4 linked regions of the Homo sapiens genome follow. The protein of the gene in region 1 purifies or fractionates together with the protein of each later gene. This does not show direct contact. Each region holds a gene or a part of one and is shown on either strand. Other genes may lie near its edges.

What was found.
Region 2: the proteins of BNIP1 (region 1) and RINT1 purify together in Homo sapiens (co-immunoprecipitation; 4 studies listed by BioGRID and IntAct, with this or other methods). This does not show direct contact.
Region 3: the proteins of BNIP1 (region 1) and NBAS purify together in Homo sapiens (co-immunoprecipitation; 3 studies listed by BioGRID and IntAct, with this or other methods). This does not show direct contact.
Region 4: the proteins of BNIP1 (region 1) and SEC22B purify together in Homo sapiens (affinity purification with mass spectrometry; 3 studies listed by BioGRID and IntAct, with this or other methods). This does not show direct contact.

Annotation. Positions count from the first base shown.
Region 1 is NC_000005.10:173,154,531-173,159,793, reverse strand, and holds part of BNIP1 (vesicle transport protein SEC20), read right to left. Parts: intron 1,051-5,263; coding exon 949-1,050; intron 1-948. UniProt on the Homo sapiens protein: As part of a SNARE complex may be involved in endoplasmic reticulum membranes fusion and be required for the maintenance of endoplasmic reticulum organization. Also plays a role in apoptosis.
Region 2 is NC_000007.14:105,549,045-105,553,784, forward strand, and holds part of RINT1 (RAD50-interacting protein 1), read left to right. Parts: intron 1-1,010; coding exon 1,011-1,121; intron 1,122-1,216; coding exon 1,217-1,442; intron 1,443-2,525; coding exon 2,526-2,663; intron 2,664-4,740. UniProt on the Homo sapiens protein: Involved in regulation of membrane traffic between the Golgi and the endoplasmic reticulum (ER); the function is proposed to depend on its association in the NRZ complex which is believed to play a role in SNARE assembly at the ER.
Region 3 is NC_000002.12:15,469,751-15,474,490, forward strand, and holds part of NBAS (NBAS subunit of NRZ tethering complex), read right to left. Parts: intron 4,575-4,740; coding exon 4,317-4,574; intron 3,598-4,316; coding exon 3,472-3,597; intron 1-3,471. UniProt on the Homo sapiens protein: Involved in Golgi-to-endoplasmic reticulum (ER) retrograde transport; the function is proposed to depend on its association in the NRZ complex which is believed to play a role in SNARE assembly at the ER. Required for normal embryonic development.
Region 4 is NC_000001.11:120,158,437-120,163,176, forward strand, and holds part of SEC22B (vesicle-trafficking protein SEC22b), read right to left. Parts: intron 2,095-4,740; coding exon 1,948-2,094; intron 1-1,947. UniProt on the Homo sapiens protein: SNARE involved in targeting and fusion of ER-derived transport vesicles with the Golgi complex as well as Golgi-derived retrograde transport vesicles with the ER.

The sequences.
Region 1 (5,263 bases):
AGGGTGTGCTGAGACCCACGCCCCTGTGGACTGCTAGTAGGAACATAAACCAGTGCTGCCTTCTGTAAAGCAATTTGCCAATTGAAGAGCCTTGGTAATGTTCATTCCTTTGACTCAATCATCTCATCCCTGGAAATCCCTCCAAAGGAAACATCCAAAATGTGGATAAAGCCTTATGTTCTAAGACATGCCCTGGTGTATTACTTACACTACTTAAACACTAGAAATGCAAACACACACAGGGAATTGTATTAACATACAATCTACATACTATGTACTGTTAGAATTAGGCTTAAAAAGCTTTTTTTTTTTTTTTAATGAACAACTTTTGTGCTGAAACAGCAGAATATGAAATTTTATGTATGGTACAATTTTGACTTTGTAAGAAATGTAGAAATAAAAATGAGGGAGAGAATATACCAAAATGTTCATGAGTAATAAGATTTGATATTTTCGGCCGGGCATGGTGGCTCACGCCTATAATCCTAGCACTTTGGGAGGCTGGGGTGGGTGGATCACCAGAAGTCAGGAGTTCAAGACCAGCCTGGCCAACGTGGTTAAACCCCGTCTCTACTAAAAATACAAAAAATTAGCTGGGTGCAGTGGCACGCAACTGTAATCCCAGATACTTTGGAGGCTGAGGCAGGAGAATCACTTGAACCCAGGAGGCGGAGGTTGCGGTGAGCCAAGAGGGCACCACTGCACTCCAGCCTGGGCTACAAGAGTGAGACTTCATCTCAGAAAAAAAAAAAAATTCAATATTTTAATTTTGTAATTCATACTTTATTTTACCAATTTACTACAAATAAGTATGCATTTTTTTCAAACTTAAAAAAATTACTTATGTAATTAAATTAAGCACCAAGCTGAAAACAAGAGGGGGTTTCCTACACCTTGCCAATTGTTATCTATTATTATCGGAGCCCAGAAAAATAAAAGAATAGGTACCTTTGCCTTAAGAGATCTCCTCCCTGAAGAAGTTCTGCTTTCTCTAGATTGTCGATTGCAATTTTGCAGGTGAGATTAGCTTTCCTCCATGAGGCCTGATTGCTGGAATTGGAAGGTTCACGTGTGAGTGTGTCCACTCCACCAAGCCATAAGTCAGTTCAATTCACAGCACTTCCCCCCAACAAAGGCACACGGGAGAAGGCCACCAGGCACGGCCTTCAGAGCCCATCCCACCTCCTGCCACTTCCGCCTCCTGGTTCCCCAGCAACTGTTCTTGCTCAGGTCCTGATACCCCTTGACCGGACCCTGGAGGTCGCCACGGGGAGGCTCTGTTGCTGTCACTCTGCCCCCGTCAGCCCAAGGGGCTGTGAACATGGCACTCCTCTGTGCACAGCTCCACAATGGCTGGACTTCAGGGAGGCATCCAAACTTCCCAGCTGGTCACACAAGGCCCCTCTTCAGTCCAGTTGCCTCTAAGGCTGTACTGCTATGGCCTGTGTATTAATTGGTACCATCCCCGGAGAACCATGACTTACTCATCTCCAGTATCTTGAACAACCATTTCTGGCCCTTCAGCTGCTGAGTTAATATACTTTGTAGGAAATAAAAAATCGTGGCCAGGCACAGTGGTTCACACCTGTAATCATAGCACTTTAGGAGGCCGAGGTGGGGGGATCACTTGAGCCCAGGAGTTCAAGACCAGCCTGGGCAACATGGAGAAACCCCGTCTCTACTAAAAATACAAAAAATTAGCCAGGCATGGTGGTGGCGCATGCCTGTGGTTCCAGCTACCCAGGAGGCGGAGGAGCGAAGATCACCTGAGCCTGGGAAGTGGAGGTTGCAGTGAGCCGTGATAGTACCACTATACTCCAGCCTGGGTGACAGAGTAAGACCTTCTCTCAAGAAAAAAAAAAAAAAACACACACACACACACAAAAAGCCAATCTTTCAAAATATTTCTTCAAGGTTTGTTGTTCTTTCCATACTACAGACCAATCATGAATGACACAAACATGATGGATTAGCAGAGCCCTGACTGACACGGCGGATCTACAGTCTTCACCTGCGCTAACTTGTGGGTGATAACGGAAAGTTGGTGAACAGCTTCCTGGAGTTAGAAATGTGACAGTTGACCGGGCGTGGTGGCTCACATCTGTAATCCCAACACTTTGAGAGGCCGAGGCGGGTGGGTCACTTGAGGTCAGGAGTTCGAGACCAGCCTGGCCAACATGTTAAAACCCTGTCTCTACTAAAAATACAAAAATTAGCTGGACATGATGGCGAGTGCCTGTAATCCCAGCTACTCGGGAGTCTGAGGCAGGAAAATCACTTGAATCTAGGAGGCAGAGGTTGCAGTGAGCCAAGATCACGCCACTGCACTCCAGCCTGGGCAATGAGAGTAAGACTCCGTCTCAAAAAAAAAAAGAAATGTTGACAGTTGTTGATAGACTATAAAAAAGCTAACTGCGTCTCTCTAAGAATCAAACTCATACTTCAGAACTCTTATGTAGCCAGCTCAAACCAATTGTGCTAATCTCTGGAAATACTCAAAAATCAAAACACAGAGTACATGAACTGACAGGGTGGTTTTCTAATAGCACCTTTATGCTGAAGGTCTTAATGAGCACCTGCTCCGCCATTTCACACCTGCCACTTTAAAGAATCCATTACATTTTGAAACAGTTTGCAAGGGGGTTCTGCAGGACCCTGGGATCCAGAGATGAATGAGGGGCAGTACTTCTCCTCAACCACCTCACATTCATTTGGGAAAAAGACAAGCAAACAGATACTCACTGTATGGTGTGACAAGCATGATGACCCAAGCAAGCACAACTACTGCTTCAACTGCCAAAGTTGGTTTTTTTTGTTTTTTTTGTTTTTTTTTTGAGACAGGGTCGGCTGGGCACGGTGCCTCACGCCTGTAATCCCAGCACTTTGGGAGGCTGAGACCGGCGGATCATGAGGGTCAGGTGATCGAGACCGTCCTGGCTAACACGGAGAAACCCCATCTCTACTAAAAATATAAAAAATGAGCCAGGCGTGGTGGCGGGTGCCTGTAGTCCCAGCTACTCGGAGAGGCTGAGGCAGGAGAATGGCGTGAACCCGGGAGGTGGAGCTTGCAGTGAGCCGAGATTGCGCCACTGCACTCCAGCCTGGGTGACAGAGTGAGACTCTGTCTCAAAAAAAAAAAAAAACAAAAGAAAAGAGGCAGGGTCTCGTTCTGTCTCCTAGGCCAGGTGCAGTCACATGATCACGGCTCACTGCAGCCTTGACCTCCCGAGCCCACTGCCCTCCTGCCTTGGCCTCCCAAGTAGTTGAGACTACAGGCACACATCAGCATGCCCCCAGCTAATTTTTTTTTTTTTTAATAGATGAGGTTTTGCTTTGTTGCCCAGGATGGTCTTAAACTCCTGGGCTCAAGCAGTCCTCCTGCCTCGGCCCCCGAAGTGCTGGGATTATAGGTGTGAGCTACTGCACATAGCCCCAAAGTATAAATTGACAGCTTTCTCTGCTCTGGCCTGTAATGCTACATTGTGGATGGCCATTCCCAGCTTTAAACCCATGCTAAGCTGAGTGTGTCTGGCATAACTTACCATACTTTATACAAGGGCTCCTCTGTACTCAGTGTTTATAATCTGAGTAGGCTTGGTGGCTCAGGAAAGCAAAAGCCATCATAACATAAAGTATTCGTGAAATAGCCAAGCCCTGGATCACTGCCCACCACTCATACAGCCCTCCCTGCTTACACTGGCCTCCCTGTGCCTGTGTTTTTGCCAGTCGGTGTCTTCCTGACAGCTGACTGTTACATACACAGCTGCTTGCAGGGAAGATGATGCTGGCAAATTGCTCAAATCAGAAGCAAAGCCACAAATACAGATCTGGCAGAGGCAGACCAGTGAACAAGAGACAAAGAGAAAACCCATGGGAATGACAACTTAGCAGGGGTTTCAAAAGAGAATGATTTAGCCAGGCACGGTGGAGTGTGCTGTAGTCCCAACTACTTGGGAAGCTGAGGTGAGAGGATCGCTTGAGCCCAGGAGTTCCTGAGGCTGCAGTAAGCTATGACTGTACTCCAGACTGGGCAACAGAGAAGGACCTCATTTCCAAAATTTTTTAATTTTTTAAAAATAAAAATATTTTTTTTTTGTTTTTAAGGTGGAGTCTCACTCTGTCACCCAGGCTGGAGTGCAGCAATCTCGGCTCACTGCAACCTCTGCCTCCCGGGCTCAAGCGATTCTCCTGCCTCAGCCTCCCGAGTAGCTGGGATTACAGGTGTGTGCCACCACACCCGGCTAATTTTTGTATTTTTAGTAGAGAGGGGTTTCACCATGTTGGTCAAGCTGGTCTCGAACTCCTGACCTCATGATCTGCCCACCTCGGCCTCCCAAAGCGCTGGGATTCCAGGCGTGAGCCGCCGCACTGGGCCAAAAATGTATTTTTAAAAAAGAGAGAGAATGATCTGAATACCTCAAATATGTTTGGAAAAACCCTCTTTATGATTGGTACAAAAGTCAAATGTGAAGGGAAAGATACTGTTTCATGTTGTCTGACAATTTCATTGGAAAAGTTAAACCTCTCCCAATTCAATAACAAGAAATGGCATATAACTGTAACTATATAATCAAGGATTAGCACACACCTGCAATTACAACCTCGATTTTGGTTTTAATTTTTGACCTCAATTTTGTTTAATTTACGGTTTTTCTTGCATTTTATTTTATTTTATTTTTAGACAGCATCCCACTCAAAACCTTCTAAATTTTGGTCCACCTTCAGCAGGTTTTCTTTCTGTAGATTTTTTCTGGTACCAATTATCCTTAGATAAAAAATGACCCTGTATTACAAAAGCAATCATATTTTTTGATTAAAAATATACAATACAGTATAATGTTAAATATGCTTTTGTAAACTATGTTCAGCTCCACCTGCTCAGATAGGCCCTATTTATCCCTTCCCCACTCGCCCCCACTTGACTATTGCTGACTGAGAGAGAACATTCCACCAGTGTGTAACTGATGCAATTGGCTGGGCGTGGTTGCTCACACCTGTAATCCCAGCACTTTGGGAAGCCAAGGTGGGTGAATCACATGAGGCCAGTGTTAGAGACCAGCCTGGCCAACACAGCGAAACTCTGTCTCTAGTAAAAATACAAAAATTAGCCAGGCGTGATGGTGGGCGCCTGTAATCCCAGCTACTCAGGAGGCTGAGGCAGAAGAATTGCTTGAACTCGGGAGGCAGAGGTCACAGTGAGCCAAGATCAGGCCACTGCACTCCAGCCTGGGCAATAGAGCGAGACACCGTCTCTCAAAAAAAA
Region 2 (4,740 bases), on another chromosome or scaffold:
TGGCACAATCTCTGCTCACTGCAACCTCCACCTCCCAGGTTCAAGCGATTCTCCTGCCTCAGCCTCCCAAGTAGCTGGGACTACAGGCACATGTCACCACACTGGACTAATTTTTGTAATTTTAGTAGAGATGGGTTTCACCATATTGGTCAGGCTGGTCTGGAACTCCTGACCTCAGGTGATCCACCTGACTTAGCCTCCCAAAGTGCTGGGATTACAGGAGTGAGCCACTGCGCCTGGCATGTACTTGGTATTTCTGCTCTTAAACCTGTATAAGACATGCGTAGTTTTTGTAATGCAGACTAGCAATTTTTTTTTTTTGGAACGAAGTTTCACTCTTGTTGCCCAGGCTGGAGCGCAATGGTGTGATCTCGGCTCACTGCAACCTCTGCCTCCCGCGTTCAAGCGATTCTCCTGCCTCAGCCTCTTGAGTAGCTGGGATTACAGGTGCCCACCACCACGCCCAGCTAATTTTTGTATATTTAGGTGAGACGGGGTTTCACCATGTTGACCAGTCTGGTCTTGAACTTCTGACCTCAGCTGATCCACCCACCTCGGCCTCCCAAAGTGCTGGGATTACAGGCATGAGCTGCCACGCCTGGCCAGCAATTTTTTTCTTGATTTACTTTTTGAAAATAAAAACCATAAGAAAATAATATTAAAATTATTTTCAAATGCTATTTCAAAAAATATAGGCCATCAGTTCTTTGTAATACTCATCATTTTACATATTATTGAAGTGCTAGGTTTTAAATATATATGGCATTGTAAATTTATGAGTTTATTGACTTAAGTCATATTATTGAAATTTGTTGGGAGTACATTAGCAAACATTTGATTATTAAGCCTTGCAGGAGTTTAAAATTTGGAGTAGAAATTGTGCTCTTACATACAGGAATTTTCAACTAATTTTTATAAGTGTTGTGCATATACAATTAAATAGAACCATGTAATTGTAACTTTCTAATTGGAATGACTTAAGAATTCAAACTATTTTCCTCCTTCCTTAGCCAGAATGGTACTTGGCTCAAGTACTTATGTGGATTGGAAACCATACTGAATTTCTGGATGAGAAGATTCAGCCAATATTAGACAAAGTAGGCTCTTTGGTAAACGCAAGGGTAAGAGACTCAGTCATAAGTGTTTCTGTTTTAGAACTGTATGTGTGCATGGATAACTTTTTATTTACATACCTCATGTTTGTGTATTTTTTTAGCTTGAATTTTCTCGGGGCCTTATGATGCTGGTTCTTGAGAAGTTAGCCACTGATATTCCTTGTCTGCTATATGATGACAATCTCTTCTGTCATTTGGTGGATGAAGTACTCTTGTTTGAAAGGGAGCTACACAGTGTTCATGGCTATCCTGGCACTTTTGCTAGTTGTATGCATATTCTATCAGAGGAAACCTGTTTTCAGAGATGGTTGACGGTGGAGAGAAAATGTAAGTGCTGATGTGGCCAGATGGTAGGGAGATATGTCTGTTTCTGTGGGTATACATTTTTGATATTTTTCTTCTCCAGTTCTAAATAGGAACTAGAGCCATTTGAAATTTCCTTTTCAGGGTTTTCTGTTTCCTTCAGAGATAATCTTTTCTTTACTTCACATGAAACTTCCATTTTTCCTGAAATTACACTCTACATATTTCTAGAGTGGAATAGTCAAGCCAGTGGGGTGTTTGTTTTATAGATTTTATCATATAATTTATTTTATTTTTATTTATTTATTTTGGGACAGACTCTTGCTCTGTTGTCCAGGCTAAAGTGCAGTAGTTTGATCTCAGCTCATTGCAACCTCCACCCCCTGCGTTCAAGCGATTCTCCTGTCTCAGCCTCCCGAGTAGTTAGGATTACAGGCACGCACTACCACGCCTGGCTAATTTTTCTGTTTTTAGGAGTGACAGGGTTACAACATGTTGGCCAGGCTGGTCTGGAACTCCTGACTTCAAGTAATCCACCTGCCTTGGCCTCCCAAAGTGTCAGAATATTTTATTTTTTTATTTTTGAGATAGGGTCTCACTTTGTCACCGAGGCTAGAGTGGAGTGGGCCGATCATGGCTTACTGCAGCCTCGACCTCTGGGGCTCAGGTGATCCTCCTGCCTCAGCCACCCCAGTAGCTGGGAGTATAGGTATATGCAAGCCATGCCTGGCTACTTTTTGTATTTTTTGTAGAGATGGGGTTTCCCTGGGGTTTTGCCCAAGCTGGTTGTGAACTCCTAGACTCAAGCAATCCACCCACCTTGGCCTCCTGGAGTGCTGGGATTACTGGTGTGAGCCACCGTGCCTGGCCAATAGAATATTTTTTACTGTAGCTTATCTAGTCAACATAACTATTTTCAGAATTTGGGGATGGGAGTAAAGTATCCTGTTTAAAGCATTAATTAAGTTAAATTTAGTACAACCAGTGGGATATTGTAGGTTTGTTTCTTTTTTATAGAAAAGCCATCATTCCTAAAAAATTACAAGTTGAATAATTAGGAACGACTGTAACTACTTAATTGACATAATTGTTTTGTCTGCTTATCAGTTGCTCTTCAAAAAATGGACTCAATGCTTTCCTCAGAAGCTGCCTGGGTATCGCAATATAAGGATATCACTGACGTGGATGAAATGAAAGTTCCAGATTGTGCAGAAACTTTTATGACTCTACTCTTGGTTATAACTGGTAAGTATGTCTTTTAAGATATGACTTTGTTTTAAAAGTACTGTTTTCACGTGGTAGTTTTTAAAGTAGCTCAGTAGGCTGGGTGCAGTGGCTCATGCCTGTAATCCTAGCACTTTGAGAGGCTGAGACGGGCAGGTTGCTTGAGCCCAGGAGTTCGAGAACAGCCTGGGGTACATGGTGAAATGCCCTCTCTTCCGAAAAAATACAGAAATTAGCCAGTTGTGGTGGTGTGTGCCTGTAGTCCCAGCTACTTGGGAGGCTGAGGTGGGAGGATTTTTTGAGCATGGGAGGTAGAGGTTGCAGTGAGCCATGATCACGCCACTGCAGTCCAGCCTTGGTGACAGAGTGAGACCCTGTCAATAAAGTAATCAATAAATAAGTGGCTCAGCAAATTAATATTATATGATGGTTGTTATCTTCAAATTCAGTTTCTATATTGGTAGAAATCTAACACAATATTCTAACTTTTGGGTTTTTAATAATTTAAGGATTTAAACATTGGTATACATGAAGGAAAACTTCCTGAATAATTACACAAAAACAATTAAATAGGAATTTAATTTTATTATCCAAACTGTCTTGCTATTGGGCTTTTTAGGTGTCTTCAGTAAATGGTGATTGGCCTATATTTTAAATATTGTCTTGATCTTGATTTATCAAAGATTGCAGAAGAGAGTAAAATAATGAAGTAATTTTAAGGATTGGAGTAGTAATAGGAACTTTTGTTACAGTGCAGGGATTCTCTGGCTGGAGGGTAGCCTAGCATCCTCTGGCCCTGGTTGGTCTTTAGCCAATCACGTTGCCCCCTTGTGGGCCTGCTTGTTGTCCAGGTGCCACTGGACCCTCATTGCCACCATCCCTGGCCCTCTTCACCTTCGTCAACCACTAGCCTGTCCGTTTCTTAGGCTTGTCTGGTAACCTGAAGAAGTATCATTCCAGCCCAGTCAGTAAATAATTCCTTTTTTTTTTTTTTTTTTTTTTTTTGAGATGGAGTCTCACTCTGTCACCCAGGCTGGAGTGCAGTGGCATGATCTCGGCTCACTGCAACCTCTGCTGCCCAGGATCAAGCAATTCTTTTGCCTCCGCCTCCCAAGTAGCTGGGATTATAGGCACCTGCTGCCACGCCCAGCTAATTTTTGAATTTTTAGTAGAGACGGGGTTTCACCATCTTAGCCAGGCTGGTCTTGAACTCCTGACCTTGTGATCCACCTGCCTCGGCCTCCCAAAGTGCTGGGATTACAGGCATGAGCCACCGTGCCCAGTCATCATTCCATATTTTTAACTATAAGAAAAATATGAAAAATACTAAGACAAAAAAATTAAGGAAAATTCATGTCTCTTAAAAACTTTTTATTCAGAAAATTTTCAAACATACACAAAAGTAGGATAATATGATGAACTCTCAGGTACCTATTGCCAAAGTTTAAAGCAATTATCACTTTTCTGTTATATTTTACTCCTCAATTTTTTTTTTCTGGAGTATTTCAAAGAAAATTTCAGACATCTCATCATGTCAATTGTAAATTCTTTTTTTTGAGACAGAATTTCGCTCTTGTCACCCAGGCTGGAGTGCAATGGCGCAATCTCGGCTTACTGCAACCTCCGCCTCCTGGGTCCAAGCAATTCTCCTACCTCAGCCTCCTGAGTAGCTGGGATTACAGATGCCTGCCACCATGCCTGGTTAATTTTTTTTTGTATTTTTACTAAAAATACAAAAATTTACAGGCAGTTGGCCAGGCACGGTGGCTCACACCTGTAATCCCAGCACTTTGGGAGGCTGAGGTGGGCAGGTCACGAGGTCAGGAGATCGAGACCATCCTGGCTAACACAGTGAAACCCCGTCTCTACTAAAAATACAAAAAAATTAGCCAGGCATGGTGGCGGCTCTACTAGAGATGGGGTTTCATATTGCCCAGACTGGTCTCGAACTCCTGACCTCAGGTGATCCACCTGCCTCGGCCTCCCAAAGTGCTGGGATTACAGGCGTGAGCCACCATGCCTGCCTGTAAATTGTCTTTTTTTTTTTTCTTTGAGACAGAGTCTCGCTCTGTCGCCCAGGCTGGAGTGCTGTGGCGCA
Region 3 (4,740 bases), on another chromosome or scaffold:
ACCGCATGTTCTCACTCATAGGTGGGAATTGAACAATGAGAACACATGGACACAGGGTGGGGAACATCACACACCGGGGCCTGCTGGGGGGTGGGGGGAGGGGGGAGGGATAGCATTAGGAGATATGCCTAATGTAAATGACGAGTTAATGGGTGCAGCACACCACCATGGCACATGTATACATATGTAACAAACCTGCACGTTGTGCACATGTACCCTAGAACTTAAAGTAAAATAATAATTAAAAAATAAAAAATAAAAAAAAAATCCCTGACTTGCCCTCTTCCTAGAAAGAGCTATTATGGTTATAAATTTTAATTAAGATTTGACTCATTCCCTAGGATCCTTTATATATTGCCTCACATCAGTTCTTTCTTCAAATGTCTCTTAATTCACTTTCCCTTTTCCACAGCTGCGGCCTCCATACCAGTCTAAATCATCAACACAAAACATCTAGCACACTGTAGGAGTCCCCTGCCCCAAGCAAGGTTTCCTACCTTCCTTCCACTCCAATTCTCTCTACACCATCTTCCTCTGCTTCCACAGTCAGAAATCCACAACAGTAGATAAATGCCTAAGTCATCAGAAGCTTTCCACATCCTCCTGAACTCAAATCAATATATCTTTTCAATCATGTTTCCCAGTGTTCACTATTGTCAAATATCAGTGCCAGCAAACTGGTTGATGTACAGAGCTCATTTATCCATAAAATGTTTACTGGGCACCTACTGCACACCAGCCACTGAACTAGACATGGAAATATAGCAGTGAATAAAACAGATTTAGTCACTGGCCTCATAAATCATGCTCAGTGTCTTTTAATTTGTTCATACCATCTGTCCTGTTAAGAATGTCTTCCTCCCTTCTCATTCAAGAAGGCCTAATTTAAATCCTTCCAAATCCCTGCTCCAAACATCTTCACTATATAAAATCTTCCATCTCTACCAGATCTATAATAATCACTATCTTCACTGGGTTTCTAGAGTTGTATCTGAAATCTACTTATACGGCCAGTTATTTTTAATATGGTGAACCCCCGTCTCTACTAAAAATACAAAAATTAGCCAGGTGTGGTGTTGTGTGCCTGTAGTCCCAAGCTACTTGGGAGGCTGAGGCGGGAGAATCACTTGAACCAGGGAGGCAGAAGCTGCAGTGAGCCGAGATCGCACCATTGCAATCCAGCCTGGGCAAAAAAAAGCAAAACTCCATCTCAAAACAAAACAAAAAAAATCATAAGCTCCCTATGAGCAAAAGCCACATTTATGCCTGTCCTGTACCCCTTCACAGTCCCTAGCATAGTGCTCTTGCTCTTAACTGTCTATTTAACTAAACGAAATATTCCCCTCCCCAAAAAAGTACTTGCTTTGTCTCTCTTAACATCCCTCAACTCCCTCAGAGACAAAAACTGTCCTTTACTGTATCCCAGAAAAAGATATACATGAACTCATGAGCTCATTGTCTTAGATCACAAAACAAGAAAGAAAAATAATACAGAATTAGTGTTTTGATTTTCTAAAGAAAATACAAGCAACTTTATCTTCTTCCGTTTCATTACCTCTCATGCTCTTTCACCTCTGATATCTTGCTTGTATTAATGTTAGGTTTATCATCCTGTTTGGCTGATGCATCATCTTCTTCCATACAACTTTTTCATGTTATATTTTTACTTTTAATTACTAACGTATAAAACTTTTAGGGAAATAATCATCATGAAATTTTCCCAGTGTTTCCTATAATCTTCCACAATGCAAAGGTATTTTCCTTTCTATATGTTAAGATCAGAAGTCTCAACCTTTTTAAAAGTATGCCATGAGTCTAACTATAATTCTTTCTTACAAAGATGCCAAAGGTTAAAACATATAGGCTTGCTATGAAATCAATATGTCCCCCAAAATCCATATGTTGAAAAACTAATCCCCAGAGTGATGATGTTTGGAAATGAGACCTTTAGAAAGCAATTAGGTCATGAGAGTGGAGGCCCCATGATAGGATTGGTGTCCTCATAAGAGGAGGCAGTAGAGAGCCTTCTTTCTCTCTCTCTGCTGTCTGCCATATAAGGACACAGCAAGAAAGAAATCCATCTGCAAACCAGGAGAGTGCCCTCACCAGGAACGAAATTGGCTAACACCTTGATTTTGCACTTCCCAGCCTCTAGAACTAAGAGAAATAAATTTCTGCTGTTGAAACCACATAGTCTGATATTTTTGTTGCAGCGGCTAAAACTAATTGAGACAAGACTATATTAACCTTAACTATGGGAGGCAGGTAACAGGAAGTATCCAGTTTTGAGATTTAAGTTTTAAAAAGGCATATTTCGCAGTTTTCATATATGTTACCTATTTATTGCCTCTCAGCTCCAAATTTCCCCTCAAAGCCAGCTCTGTGGTAGCATATCTCATTTGTGGTTGACACGATTTTAAGCTCTGGGTGCTGGAGGGCCACTGCAAAGGAAGAGGCTCTGCTTTCTAGTCCTGATGTGCTTTGGTTCTTTTCTTCTTGCTCCTATGGCTTGGCCACCAACAAGGCACGTGGGCAACATCAAGTGGCACTTACTTCCCCGCTTCCTCCCTCTGTTGACAACCTCCCACTGAGTTTCAGTGACACTCTCATGGGCAGATTGTTTTCTAGTGAATCACCCAGGCACCTGAGAGGGAAGCTTCCCAGACTGGAAGCTACAGTAAGGCTGCCTATAGGAGTAGACAGTTTTTTCTTGCCAGTCTTGGCCATGATTCCTTAATTATCTACCAGCCTTGAGCCACATGCATGCTGGTAGGGGTTTCCTGCTTCCTAGTCCCTGGGGTCTTCTAAACCCCAACCTCAGCTCACTGGCCCCCCCCAGAAGCAGGCGTCCAGCTTTCCTATCCATCCCATATCTCCCTGACTGCCAACCTTGGCAACCGTGGACCAGCCCTGGCTCAAGGCAACCCAGAGAACTTCTCTTCCATCCTACATGCTGCAACCACTCCTGGTCCAATGGGTCTGAATCCCAGCCTAGGGGAGGGGCCTCCCTTCCAAGTTCATTCCCTTCATGGATATGTCCCTTCAGCCCTAGGGTAGTCCTTAGCGTTCTCTTCACATCCTTTATAGTTCATCTCTGGTTACTAGAAAATAATTCTCCATATTGTAAATTTCCCTGTTTAAATTACTGTGTGATTTCTGGCATCTGACTAGCTCTTGACTCATGCAGGTAAAGAGAAGTGATTGTGGTACAGGAAAGAAAACGTTAGGCCGAGACCAAGTAGTTAGCTGGTTTATCTGTGAATATTTGTTCACATGTATTCAGCATCAAAGTCCAGTTGCAGGGGCAATAAAATCTAACAAAAAGACCATTTTTCCAGCTGAGAAAATTGTACTTCATTGGCTGTATTATAGAAAAGTCAGCAATGTAAAGTACTCTAAAATGAAGCCCTATAAACAAAAGATATTACATGAATATACATTTTACCACATTACCAAAATATTTAAACATACCAAATAATTCTGAATTGAAGCAACGTTGACCGCTGACTTCCTCCACTGCCTCTGATATACAAGGTCAGTATCCAGGCCGTAGGTATGAGCCAAGGACAAGGCTTCCTCATACTCTTCACTTTCAATCTTCAGATAAAAACACGAGGACAGGAATGTTACATGACTGAATTATCCACAGGGTCCTGATGATGATACAATGAATGATGATAATCCCTTGGACTTATCCAGCATGTCACTAATTCCTGTGCACTGTGGCACCAGAAGCTCACAGATATTTTGAGGAGCAGAAAGATCTCGTGTTTCTTTCAGCACTTCAACAGAAAGATGAGAGATAAAAGGTGCAAAGCTCTCGTTTTAGAGTAAAACAGCGGCAAAACCAAGACAACCATGGAACAACCCGGCTTCTAGTCCAGAGCTCCTACCACGACATTGCAAGAACAGCACAAATCACGTGAACACACAGTGCTGGTCACCTCGGCTTCCCAAGCAAGCCCTGGACTAGAAAGCAAGTCTGAACTTCTTCCTTCACCCTCTGTAGATGGCTGATTTAAACACAGATAAAGGGAGAGCTGAAGGCCACATGAAGGGTAGCAAAGAAATGAGCTAAGCCACCAAGTGGATAATCAGTCTAAGTGAATTCAATTTTTATCCATGGTTTTGATTTTGATTATTTAGGTACAAAGATTAGCATTATTTTAAAAAGCTTTATAGAACTGATATTTTTAACATGTCAATGATCCAACATCCCTCTTGAAATTTTCTCCTTTATTAAAAAATTAACTTTTTCTCAATAAAAGAAAAGCTTGATGACTTCAAACTTGGGTAGTAATATGCTACTCTCTCACCTTCCTCTGATAAAGTTCCTCTGGTGTCGTGGAGCGCAAACTCACAAGGCGGTAGTTTTTAGTAATGGTTCGTGGGCGTTTCCGTGGTGGTGCAAATCGCTCCATTTCAGTCACCAAGTAAAGGCCCTGTTTTATATAACCAAAGTAGCGAGCCTTGGCAGATATTTCATAATCAGAATCAGAATCCTCTTCTCCTTCATCTTCTTCTCCAGCTCTAGTCTCCAAACGAGATCGTTTGGGGGCAAGTTTAATCTCACACTAAATTGAAAAAGGAGATTTGAAGTTAATAGTAAGGAAATAAGAATAACTTTTTAGAATTAATGAAAGAAAATATATTTCTAAATCTACTCTGGTTTGATTCATTAAATCAGCTATGTGATCAAGATTAACAATGGAACTCAAAGGAACCTTACAGCAAGCATTA
Region 4 (4,740 bases), on another chromosome or scaffold:
TGGTATATAGTTAGTGCTCAATAAACATTTGCTAAATGAATCTAAATCTGCTGAGAATAACTCAGCAGAGGAACAATTATTAGACCCTATGAAACAAGTCATAGTTGAGAGAATTTATATATGAACGTTTTGAAATACAGGATAACATAAAGACAAAGCTATTGCTTGGAGAAGTCATTTAACAAATATTTATGTGACAGGCACCATGTGAAGTGCTGAGGATACAACAGTGATCAAAATATACATGATCCCTGCCTTTAAGGAATTTAGAGTCTTGCATGAGTGATACAAGAAAAATTCCTGTGCTAGTCTACTTTATCCCATATAGGAATTGCAAGTCTGTATGACAAAACCTTACACACTCACTCACTCAAAATTTGGTATTTAAAGAGTGTGAAGGTAAATGAATAACTGCTCACTACTCAAAAAAAGGTTAAAGTTTGTAGTTCATAATAAAAGAAAACTCACTTACTAATGAATATATAGCATGGCTGAATTCAAAAATACTTATTAAGGAACCTATTTGTGACCATTTCTGTGGGGGATATATAAGGAGTATGTGAAACAGATATAAAATACATAAGCACTATCTTTAAAGAGCTTACATGTCCACATTAAACACTTAGGTAATATTTAAATATCAGGTAAATATACATATACTTTTAACCTAATTTTACCTAATTACCTACACTTTTAAAATTATATAAAGGGCTGGGTGTTGTGGCTCATGCCTGTAATCCCAGCACTTTGGGAAGCTGAAGTGAGTGGATTGCTTGAGCCCTGGAGTTTGTGACCAGCCGGAACAACATGGCAAAACCCCATCTCTACTAAGAAAATACAAAAATTAGCCAGGCGTGGTGGCACATGCCTGTAGCCCCAGGTACTCAGGAGGATAAGGTGGGAAGATCGCTTGAACCCAGGAGATGGTGGTTGCAGTGAGCCAAGATCGTGCCATTGCACTCCAGCCTGGGCAACAGAACAAGACTCTGTCTCAAAAAAATATACGAAATTATATAAAAATATTTAATTATCCAAATATGTTTGCCTACTTTAATATAAATATATGAAATATATACTTATGTTATATGGAAATATATTTAATATATATTAAATATATATTTAATATGGTAAGAGGTATTTAATAAATATATTTAAGGTAAATTAGGTAAACACACATACATGTAATATGTGCTAAAACCATTATGTTATTAAGTGCTTTAGGAGTTTAAAGTACAGAAGAGATTAATGTGATACAGGCTATAAGGATCAGAGAAAGGTTCTTTAAAGAGACAGTTCTTATGGAGGTCTTACAGAACAGGTCCAGCATAAGGCAGAATAGACCACTAAGGATAGTAAAGAAGCTGGTGTGGCTACAGAAGAATGTTTGTGAACTAGAGAATGACAGACATTTGCATCTTCCTTATTTTCCATATGTAGAGCACAATGCCTTACAAATAACAAGCTCTCAATAACAATGGCTGACTGACGGAAAAATAAGTCAGACTGGATCTTATCTTGTAGTCCCAGATTTAAAAGTTTTTCAGAGGAATGCCTTGATGAAAATGGCATTTTATAAAGATTGATCTGGCAGCAGTAAAGTCTCCCAAAGAGGCTACTCAAAAAACCACTGCAATACATCATTGAGTTTTCTCTCATTCATTTCCCTTAATTTATACAAGTTATATAATTTAATTAATTTTGTGAATATCTTAGAAATAATCATTGCTTCTAATATGGATGAGTCCTTTACACTGTTCCAACTCAACAAAAACTAATCATGCTAGGAAAAAAAATATATTGGAAGCATTGTAATGTAATGTACTTCTGGGAGATAAATTCTTAACAGTTCTAGGTAGAATCTAATAGCATAAAAGGCACTGCAAAATAAGCTATCCTTGTCTATGGAATGAGAACCATTTCTTCATAAGACTCATTGCTTTTAGATACCTGAGAGTGCTTCTCCTCGTTGTAACACTTCTTCAATATTGGCCACCATGATCCTCTGCACATCTTGCAATTCAGTGTTGATGGAGCCTAGATTTCTTCGAGCACGACTGTCAATGTAGAGCTTCTTGGTTTTCTGAATGAAAGTATCTAGAATGATGAAGAAAACTGACCATTTCTTTCATGGCCATCAAAGTACTGAGGTAGGAGATTAAAAGTTCTGAGTTGGCCAGGCGCGGTGGCTCACACCTGTAATCCCAGCACTTTGGGAGGCCAAGGCAGGTGAATCATGAGGTCAGGAAATCGAGACCATCCTGGCTAACACAGTGAAACCCCGTCTCTACTAAAAATATAAAAAGTTAGCCAGGCGTGGCGGCACACGCCTATAATCCCAGCTACTCAGGAGGCTGAGCCAGGAGAATCACTTGAACTTGGGAGGCAGAGGTTGCAGTGAGCCGAGATCACACCACCACCACACTTTAGCCTGGGTGACAGAGCAAGACTCTGTCTCAAAAACAAAAAAAAAAAAACCAAAACAGTTCTGAGTTTATTCCTGGATTTGCCACTGTCCATGGTTAACCAAACTCTTGGTTGAATATCAAAATCTAGGCTTTGATTATTTCATTTGTAAGATGTAAAGGTATAATTAGACGACCATTCAGGAGAAATGTCCTTTGAATACCTTTGAATTAGAAGTATTTGCTATCTAAGGCTGCTATCAGAATCCTTAGAGAAATTAAGACCCACTATAGTAAGCCTTTCCTGAAAACAGAAATTTTCAAACAGTATTCTGAGGACCCTTAGGCTAAGTGTTACTTACCTCTACACATTCCTTAAAAGGATGCTGGTAACACTCTAGCATTATTACAGCCTAACATGGCAAAAGGGTTCATGATCATTAAAAAGCTGAGAAACTTTACCTTTTCTCTAATATACATTCCCAGTTTCATTCCATTCTTAAACCTCAGGTAAAGCAAATATGTAATAGGGAGTTTTCCAAAATACCAATACAAAACTGAACTGAAGTCTCGGCCAGGCACTGTGTCTCACACGTATAAATCCCAGCATTTTGGGAGGCCAAGATGGGTGGATCACTTGAGGCCAGGAATTCGAGACCAGCCTGGCCAACAAGGCAAAACTCCCATCTCTACCAAAAATACCGAAATTAGCTAGCTGGTCATGGCAGCGTGCACCTCTAGTCCCAGCTATTCAGGAGGCTGAGGCACAAGAATCACTTGAACCTAGGAGGCAGAGGTTGCAGTTAGCCAAAATCATGCCACTGCACCCCAGCCTGGGCAATAGAGCGAGACTCTGTCTCTAAGTAAATAAATAAATAAATAAAAACTGAAGTCTCATCCATCTTTTGCTCATATCAGTATTTCTCAAAACTATAGGAAGAATGACTTATTATTAAAGATATTTTCAACTTTTGGCAAAAATCTTAATTTAAGTGTGCTGTACCCCTTTCATTTGCCTCTTTAGATCTCCTCTCTGCCCTCCTGCACCTTGCTTTCTGCACTGGGAAGCTGACTTGGATGAAGCGCCTCAAGACTCCTTGCTCTGTGCCAGTTAGGTTCAGGCAATGAAGAAGCCCCAACAGTAGGGAAGAAGGAGAACAGACAGTGAGTGATGTCCGGGTATTTATTCCCCTGGCTTCTTTCAGAGAAGGAAATAACCTTCTTCTGGAAGTATCCCTCTACCAAAAGTTACGCTCCTCTCAAGTTGGCCTTCTCTAGAAATTTTCTCCTTTTCAGTTTCAGAAACTGCTCCTCCCCCTTATACATTCAGGCCTAGGGATGGTAACAACCAGTATGCTACTGGTCAGAGGTTACTGTACCTTGTAATTCTCCTACAGCCTAGTCATATCTTTGTATATAATCCCTTAAGCTAATTTGGGTGTGCCATCTGTTTCCTGTATGACCCTGATACATTTGTCTTATTTTTGAGGGAGGTTTATGGGAGTATTACTGTCTATAAAAATAAAATTTGAAAAACTGGACATTATATAAAGCAGCACTTGGAGAGTATATAGTTATGAAACACTAGAGTGTTTTTCCAAAGCAAGATGACCCATTTATCTAGCAAACTTGAAACACTTCAAAAATTCTAAGCCAGTAAAACCAATTTCTCTTTTAACTAAAAATTTCAGCGATATAGCCTGATCCTACTTGTTCTCACTCCCTGTACTTACTGTACTTAGGACATTTCCTTTGATCCCTTACCATCAGATACTTTACCAGGTCTGATTAGTAATTAGTCTTTCTATAATTCTTGCACAAATACAGACACCTATGCTCACTATTCCTGAATGTAGTAAATATTATACCCCAATACCATGAGTACCAGGTATCTTCTATTTCTTTGTTATGTTTTGTTTTTTTAATTAGAGGATCTTATTCTACTAAAAGAAACAAAACATCATTCTTTCTGATTTCCCAATTCTGATCTCCATAAAATGAGCCTTATTGTGAGTGTGAGTCTGTGGACTGGGGTAAAGAAGAACTCAGCCATTATATGCCAATCAAGTAGATCTTTAGGCACAGTTCCTGTCACATGTGACTCTAAAGAAGAATCAAACCAAATAACAGAAAGGGCAAAAGGCAACAATTTCTATGGGGGAAAGATCAAAAGACTAGAGAAAATTACTTTTCAGAACAAAGCCTTAGTCACTCAAAAAGACAAAAAGAAGTGGAATGGAAAAGGATGCAGAAGCTAAAACTTCAGCAAGTAAACATCAGAAAAAATGTATAAATATTATATCAGTGTAACAAATAGCTTCTCCATATTGTTTGCTCC